2 linked regions of the Homo sapiens genome follow. The protein of the gene in region 1 purifies or fractionates together with the protein of each later gene. This does not show direct contact. Each region holds a gene or a part of one and is shown on either strand. Other genes may lie near its edges. The genes, in order: SLC7A10 and CA12.

Evidence for each region.
Region 2: the proteins of SLC7A10 (region 1) and CA12 purify together in Homo sapiens (affinity purification with mass spectrometry; one large-scale study listed by BioGRID and IntAct). This does not show direct contact.

What each region holds. Positions count from the first base shown.
Region 1 is NC_000019.10:33,208,590-33,212,401, reverse strand, and holds the end of SLC7A10 (asc-type amino acid transporter 1), read left to right. Parts: coding exon 1-110; intron 111-864; coding exon 865-988; coding exon of another isoform or gene 989-1,073; coding exon 1,074-1,177; coding exon of another isoform or gene 1,178-1,503; coding exon 1,504-1,600; intron 1,601-1,785; coding exon 1,786-1,935; intron 1,936-2,916; coding exon 2,917-3,094; intron 3,095-3,380; coding exon 3,381-3,511; 3' UTR 3,512-3,738; downstream 3,739-3,812. UniProt on the Homo sapiens protein: Associates with SLC3A2/4F2hc to form a functional heterodimeric complex that translocates small neutral L- and D-amino acids across the plasma membrane. Preferentially mediates exchange transport, but can also operate via facilitated diffusion.
Region 2 is NC_000015.10:63,347,202-63,351,013, reverse strand, and holds part of CA12 (carbonic anhydrase 12 isoform 1 precursor), read left to right. Parts: intron 1-3,812. UniProt on the Homo sapiens protein: Reversible hydration of carbon dioxide.

The sequences.
Region 1 (3,812 bases):
ATGACGCCCTCCGTGGGACACCTGGCCCTGGCCTTCCTCCAGGGCTCCTTCGCCTTCAGTGGCTGGAACTTCCTCAACTATGTCACCGAGGAGATGGTTGACGCCCGAAAGTGAGTGGGGCCCCCAACTGGGCCCTGGGAAGCAGCCAGGCCCTCTGGTGGGACAGGCAGCCTCTCCGCCCAGCCCCACTGCCACCCAAGGCTCGGGCTGGTCCTCGGTGGCCCACGCCTGTTGCCCTGCAAAAATGGCCCTGGGAAGAAAGCCGGGGGGCTTGCATTCTAGCCTGGCCCTGTTCTCTCTGGCTATGGACACGTCACAGCCCCTTGCAGGGCCTCAGAAAGGCTGAATATCATCATCCTGCTGTAAATAGATCCAGAGATTTGCATTTGGCCTAAAATTATGCATATACACACAATATGGTCCCTACAAATGAAGCCAATGACTGCGTCTGATGCTCGGCCAGGGATCTCGACAGTAAACCTTTGCAGCTGAGCGAGCTGGGACTGGAAAGTTCCAGGAAGACTCTGGGTCTGTGGACTGGGCTCTGGGGCCATTTTGGGGAATTTTCCAGGCTGATTTTGGCTGTATGCGATTTTATCTTTCTGCACAGACATCAGACCCTGTCCTCAGGATGTGATGGGGCCCCTCCCCCATCTCCCATCCTACCAGCCTGTGTCCAGGTGGGGGTGGGGCAGGGCAGACAACAGGGTCCCTGTGTCTCGGGCAGCAATGCTGCCCCCTTTCCTGCCCCAACATCCCCAGCAGACACAAGAGATGGAGACTATGAGCTGCTCTCGTGGCTGGGTCTCGGGGGTCCTGCACCCTCAGGAGCTGACGCTGACGCACTCCACTGCCTGTCACCAGGAACCTACCTCGCGCCATCTTCATCTCCATCCCACTGGTGACCTTCGTGTACACGTTCACCAACATTGCCTACTTCACGGCCATGTCCCCCCAGGAGCTGCTCTCCTCCAATGCGGTGGCTGTGGTGAGTGGGCCCCTGCTCGGTCCCTGGCTCCTGCCCAGGCCCCTGCCCCGGCCTTACACATGGCCTCTCTACTGTGCCCACCCAGACCTTCGGGGAGAAGCTGCTGGGCTACTTTTCTTGGGTCATGCCTGTCTCCGTGGCTCTGTCAACCTTCGGAGGGATCAATGGTTACCTGTTCACCTACTCCAGGTGACTGCACTGGGGAGACGTGGGCATGGGGAGGGAAGGCTGGGGTGCAGGTGTGCACCAGTCATGCCGTGGGCCAGAGGAAGGGACACCTGCCGGGGGAGGGGTCTGCCTGAAGCTGGGATGATGATCCCACACGGTAACAAGTGTCTGATCACAACTGGGAGGCAAAGAAAGCAAGAGGCAGGCAGGCTGGATGAGGGGGAGAACTGTCCAGTGGGGCTGCTGGGCCCGGAGCAGGAGGTCAGAGGCGACAGCTTAAGAGGGACATCAGGTCCAAAGCTGAGACCCAGGATGTGGCCAGTGCCCATATCTGTCCCCAACGCTAGGCTGTGCTTCTCTGGAGCCCGCGAGGGGCACCTGCCCAGCCTGCTGGCCATGATCCACGTCAGACACTGCACCCCCATCCCCGCCCTCCTCGTCTGTGTAAGTTGGGGGACCTGGGCCAGGCAGGGCGTGGAGGCAGGGCTACCCGGCAATGCAGGACCTTCCGGGTAATGGCAGGGGTGAGCCATTCCAGGGTGGGGGTTGGGGGTGGGGCCAGGGCTCATCCTGCAGGGGCGTCAGGAGGCAGGCTAGGGGCCAGCCGTCAGCCCCAGGTCCTCTCCCAGTGCGGGGCCACAGCCGTCATCATGCTCGTGGGCGACACGTACACGCTCATCAACTATGTGTCCTTCATCAACTACCTCTGCTACGGCGTCACCATCCTGGGCCTGCTGCTGCTGCGCTGGAGGCGGCCTGCACTCCACAGGCCCATCAAGGTGAGGCCCTGGGACAGCTGGCCCTGTGCCGGGTGCTGCCAGAGCCACCCCTGCATCCACAGTGGGCACCAGGGGCAGGTGGGATGGGAGGTGCCAGCTTTTGTGGAGTGTTGGGCCCTGCTCAGGGCTCTCTGTGCACTGAGGCAGCCATTCCTCATAGCAGCCCCATGAGGACAGAGCTTTGAATGCTCCCAGTGTACAGATGGCGAAAATGAGGCTCAGGACTGGGCACAGGGGCTCATGCCTATTCCAGCACTTTGGGAGGCCGAGGTGGGAGGATTGCTGGAGCCCAGGAGTTTGAGACCAGCCTGGGCAACATAACGAGACTTCCTCTCTGCAAAAAGTTAAAAATAAAAGGGTTAGCCTGGTGTGGTGGTGCGCACCTGTGGTCCCAGCTACTTGAGAGGCTGAAATGGGAGGATCGCTTGAGCCCGGGAGGTTGAGGCTGCAGTGAGCGGTGCTAGGGCCACCGTACTCCAACCTGGGTGACAGAGGGAGACCCTGTCTCAAAAAAAAAAAAAAATTAAAGAAAATGAGACTCAGGAACTGTTCAAGGTCACAAAGGCTGCCAGGATTTCATGAGCCCACACAAAAACAGAAGACCATAGCCTGAGCTAAAAGCAAAGCCCCCCATGTGTGTATAAATCCTTAAGTGGAGAAGTGCTCAGTGCCTGAAATGTGAAACACCAAAAAATCACTGACCTCCAGCCAAGTGCAAGCCTCAAGTCCACACGCAACCGCTGTGTGGAGCTCGGTGCCGCTGAGACTTTGAAAAATCCTCAGCAAAACTGGCCAACGGCCTGACCCATGAATTGGCCTCCAACACACTGGGCTGTCGCCAAGAGGGGGTGTAGTGGGTGCAATTGCCCTTCAGGCCTCAGCTCCCAGGGAAGGGAGGAAAATTCCCCAGACCCCCAGGGGTCGGGGGTACAGACAGCTGGAGGCCCTGCACCATCGGTGTTTCTGCTCCCCCTTCCCCAGGTGAACCTTCTCATCCCCGTGGCGTACTTGGTCTTCTGGGCCTTCCTGCTGGTCTTCAGCTTCATCTCAGAGCCTATGGTCTGTGGGGTCGGCGTCATCATCATCCTTACGGGGGTGCCCATTTTCTTTCTGGGAGTGTTCTGGAGAAGCAAACCAAAGTGTGTGCACAGACTCACAGGTGAGCCGGGCAGCTGCAGGTCACCCAGCACAGGGGGCCGGGGCCTGGAGACCAGACCTCCCTCTTAGAGGCTCACCCCAGAGCAGGGTGTCCTAGCAGCTGAGGTGGGAACACAGGGCCCAGCCGCCACCAAATGTCTCTTCCCAAGATGTACCCAAAGTTTCCAGAACCACGGGTACCGACGGAGCAACTCCCTGAAGACCCCTGCCCAAGGGGAGGTGTCCGGAGCTGGGGGTCACCCCTATCCCGAGAGGTCAGGCCCCAAGGTCCATCTGTCTGTCCTCAGAGTCCATGACACACTGGGGCCAGGAGCTGTGTTTCGTGGTCTACCCCCAGGACGCCCCCGAAGAGGAGGAGAATGGCCCCTGCCCACCCTCCCTGCTGCCTGCCACAGACAAGCCCTCGAAGCCACAATGAGATTTTTGTAGAGACTGAAGCAGTTGTTTCTGTTTACATGTTGTTTATTGAGGAGGTGTTTTGGCAAAAAAGTTTTGTTTTGTTTTTTTCTGGAAAAAAAAGAAAAAAGATACGACTCTCAGAAGCCTGTTTAAGGAAGCCCTAAAATGTGGACTGGGTTTCCTGTCTTAGCACTGCCCTGCTAGCTCTTCCTGAAAAGGCCTATAAATAAACAGGGCTGGCTGTTCGCTCGTGCTATGGGGAGTCCCTGATGGGCACAGATGGGAGTGGCTGGGGCGTACCTCGGTGGGTGCACACATGT
Region 2 (3,812 bases), on another chromosome or scaffold:
GTAATCTTAAGGTATTAATTCTTAACTCTCTAGGTGTGGTCATGGTACTGTGGTTTTAAGAGCCCTTATGTTTTAGAGAAACATATGAAATATATACAGATGAAATATATCTGGATTTGTTTCCAGTTATCCAGGTAGATAAGGGGAGAATGGGCTTAGCATAGATGAGGCAGGACTGTTTCTGAATTGTAAACTGTCCAAGCTGGGTGACATGGGGTTCATTCCACTCCTCTCTCTACATTGTATACATTTGAAATTTTCTGTAAAAACATTCTGGTCCTTGGATAATGCAGGTCCTACACCCTGGGCCTCAAAATTCCCAATCAGAAATCACGAGAGGCATTTTGAGCTGTGCCATGTTAATCTCTTGTTACCTTTCGAAACAGGAATTCTGACCACTTCTGTTTTGCCTAGAGCAGGAAAAACACATAGACAGGAAAGAAATAATGCCTTGGCTTTATTTAGAAAAACAAACTGTGAAAGACACGTGATCCTCCTGTATCACGATCATGGGAGGAGTCCAACCAACTGGAGAGGCGAAGTCAAAACTCAGAAGAGCAAAGGCAAAGTTTTAGCTGGAAATAAATGCTTCTTTTAGGAGAGTCACTCCCAGTGGAGGATTTCTGGCAGTGGAGCACTTGGCATGAGTGTGAAAGCTGACACTGAGTTGGAAAATGGTAGCCCAGGGTGTAGCGGCCAGCATAAGGCCAGCACTGTGCAGTCACATGTCACAGCTCAGGGAACAGAAAGGCCTGCTGTTGTCACCTCTGATATTGGTTGTCCCGGTGCCCACCCTCATGGCACCTCTATCTCTCACATGCCACAAAGACAGGAGGCTGCTCTGACAGTGTCCCCAGCTATGCAAGGCGGGGACACCCACTAGCCATTACATGCTGGGGGAGGGCCCTATGAACTTCCTTGGCAGGCCGTCTCCCAGGCTACAGGGCAGAAATCAGATTTCTTTTTCAATTAGTGCCCCCAAACAGAAACCATTTGCACACAGGTAAGCTAGAAAGCTAGGAGGGTACATTTTGAACCTGAGCAAGTGATCTCATTTTTCCTCCTCTTTTTTGAGGAGAAGAAATACATGAGGGAATTAAGGTGGGTGCACGTTCCCTGGGAAAGGAACAAGCATGAAACAGGTGTTGAGAGTTCAGCTTAGTAAACATGTGAGGGCCCACTCTGTGCCAGGCACTGTGGGAAGTGCAGCGATGGATGAGCCGTGGTCCTTGTCTTCAAGGACAGCGTGGGGAAGCCAGGAAATTCCAGGTGCACAAAATCTCCTGGATAAATACTGAAGGACACATAAGTCCTGTGACCCAAGCAAAGTAACTGTTACTTAGCCAAAGTCAAACTTCCGGCAAATCTCTTAAATCTCTATTTTTCACCCATAAAATGGTGCAATTCTGCCTTGCTTACCCCGTAAGGTTATAGAGTTATAAGGATCAAAGCTACTACAATATAATAACAATGAGGAGGAGGAGGAGGAGGCGAAGACAAGGCTTTCTTGACCTTGCTGACCTACAGACCTGTGACTGGTGCCCAAGGACGAACTCCGCTGTGGATGGCAGCCAGGACCAGGGCAGGTTCCTGATGCAGATGGCTGTCTGATCCCAGCCAGTCCTGGAGCACCGGTGCCCTGTGCCCTCATTCCCGAAGCTGGTTCCCCTGGGCACCTTGTCACATGCCCAGTAGCTGCCTTGACATGAGCAACCTTTCTGACTCATTCAAATTTGCCTGACAGATGGAGAAGGTGCTTAGTCCTAGTATTCTTAATAAATATCAGAGCTTAAGAGCCAGAAGGAACCTTCCAGAACATAGCTTCCACACACATCCCATCCCCACCACTACGCCCACCACCCCCACCATTTGCACGAAGGGCAATGGAGGCTCCAGCAGGGAACATAACCCACTGAAGTGTTGGGACAGCTGATGCTGGAATCTCATTCTCTGGACTCCCCTGGTCCAACATAGCTGCTTCTCTTTCCAAGACAGGTTTTGCCAACACCAACTCTACTGCCTTTAATATCCTTAGTCTTTCCTGCCCCCCAAATACCTTATTTGGTCCTAACTTCCAATAAAGCGTATTTAGAGCAAGAGAAAAAGGAAACATTCCCCAAGTCACATTTTCCCAAGCCCTCTGTTCTTTTTCACTCTTTGGGAAAATGTTTCCTAAATGCCCATGGGGGCACGTGACCCTACTTATAATATGGGTTCACAGAGACGAAGATGAGGGGTCCCTATCTTCACGAGGCTCTCGTTTAGCTATCAGTAAAATGCCCTCTTGATGAAACCTTTTTGAACCTCCACTGTGGGAAAAGAAAACCCTTCTAATCCAGTTCCCTTTAGTCATGTGTGCAAAGAGAAAGCTTCTCAATGATGCATCTCTTTACTTCCTGAGTTTTTTGCATTCATGCCTGGCTGGCAGCTTCCGCCCTGCTGGCTGTGGGCCCAGGCAGTATTGTGAGCACAGAAAAGGCTGGCAGCCTCACTTAGGGAGTCTTACCCTGTGCTGTGTCTCTTCCTGACCCTGGGGTTCTACATGAGGCCTCACGGTTGCTTCATTCTGCTCCCCGCTGCCCCTAAAGCATTCGGTTTGGCCCCCAGCTGAATAATTGTCTTACTCCAGTTTGGCCCTGGAGTGCCTGCTTTGATATCCTCCAGCCTCCCTCTTCCCTAGTCACCATCTTGGTGTAGTTGAGTTATTTTGAGGCCTTGAAAATAAGAATAGTAGAGCTCAGCGGAGACTCTGCCATGCCCAAGTGAGAAGACTGGTGTCCAGTGAAAGGTTGGACTGGAGATTCTGCAATTCCGTCATGCTGTAACATTTCTGAAAATGCATAGCCTAAGGTTGACAGCCTGAAAAATCAGTAGGGTTCCGATGTGTGTGTCCGGACCTAGAAGTAAGAACTAACTAAGCCTGGGACCAACGCCTCATAGCATTTGAAATGAACCTGGGTACCAAGTATCACTTCGGATTCTTCCCACTCTCAGATACGGTCCCCTAGTTAGAGAGCACGATGTAGGGGGTTGGGATTCTGTGGGGCCAATATAACATTTACACCCTTGTGAAACAGTGCAGGGGTCTACAGAAGAATTCCCAGAAGAGGTGGTGTTCCTTTCCCCTTTTCTCTATTTACCCACCTTCCTTGTGTTGAAATACTGATGAACGGACCCCCAGATGGCAAAGCTTGATCCCCAGCTCTGATAGAGCCCACAGGACACCCTGGGTCTACCCTAACGAGCCATGACATGCCAATTCTTTGCTTTTCTGGAGAAACCTTGGCCTGAAAGTCTGTTTAATTACCGTGGAGATAATCTTTTAAACATAGATTTACATTCTTTAAAGACTTTTTCCCTGTGGGAGTAGGAAAGTTCATCTGCACATAGCATGTTTATTTTCATTTCCAGGGGAGGAACTGCTATCTGGTAGTTAGCAAGAAGCTTGAGCCCTGGAGGAATTTCTTTTTTTAAAGTCTGTTCCTCTTCACTGATAGTGTGTCAATTATATTGTAATAATTAGTTTATAGTGTGGTCATATTTTTTTCCAGCTTAAACTCTGCACTTCACTCTGTGATTCCAGGCCTATAATTATTTAACATTTGTCAATCATCCCTATCAGATTGGGTTCTATAGTTACTCTAAATGTGGGTATCAAGAGTCAATGTCCTCAGGGGTTTCTCTTCAGGAAGGTCATACTTGCAAAGCCAGCAGCCACAAAGACCTATTTAGGTTGGTGCAAAAGCAGTTGTGGTTTTTGCCTGAAAGGAATGGCAAAAACCGCAATTATTTTTGCACCAAGATAATACTTG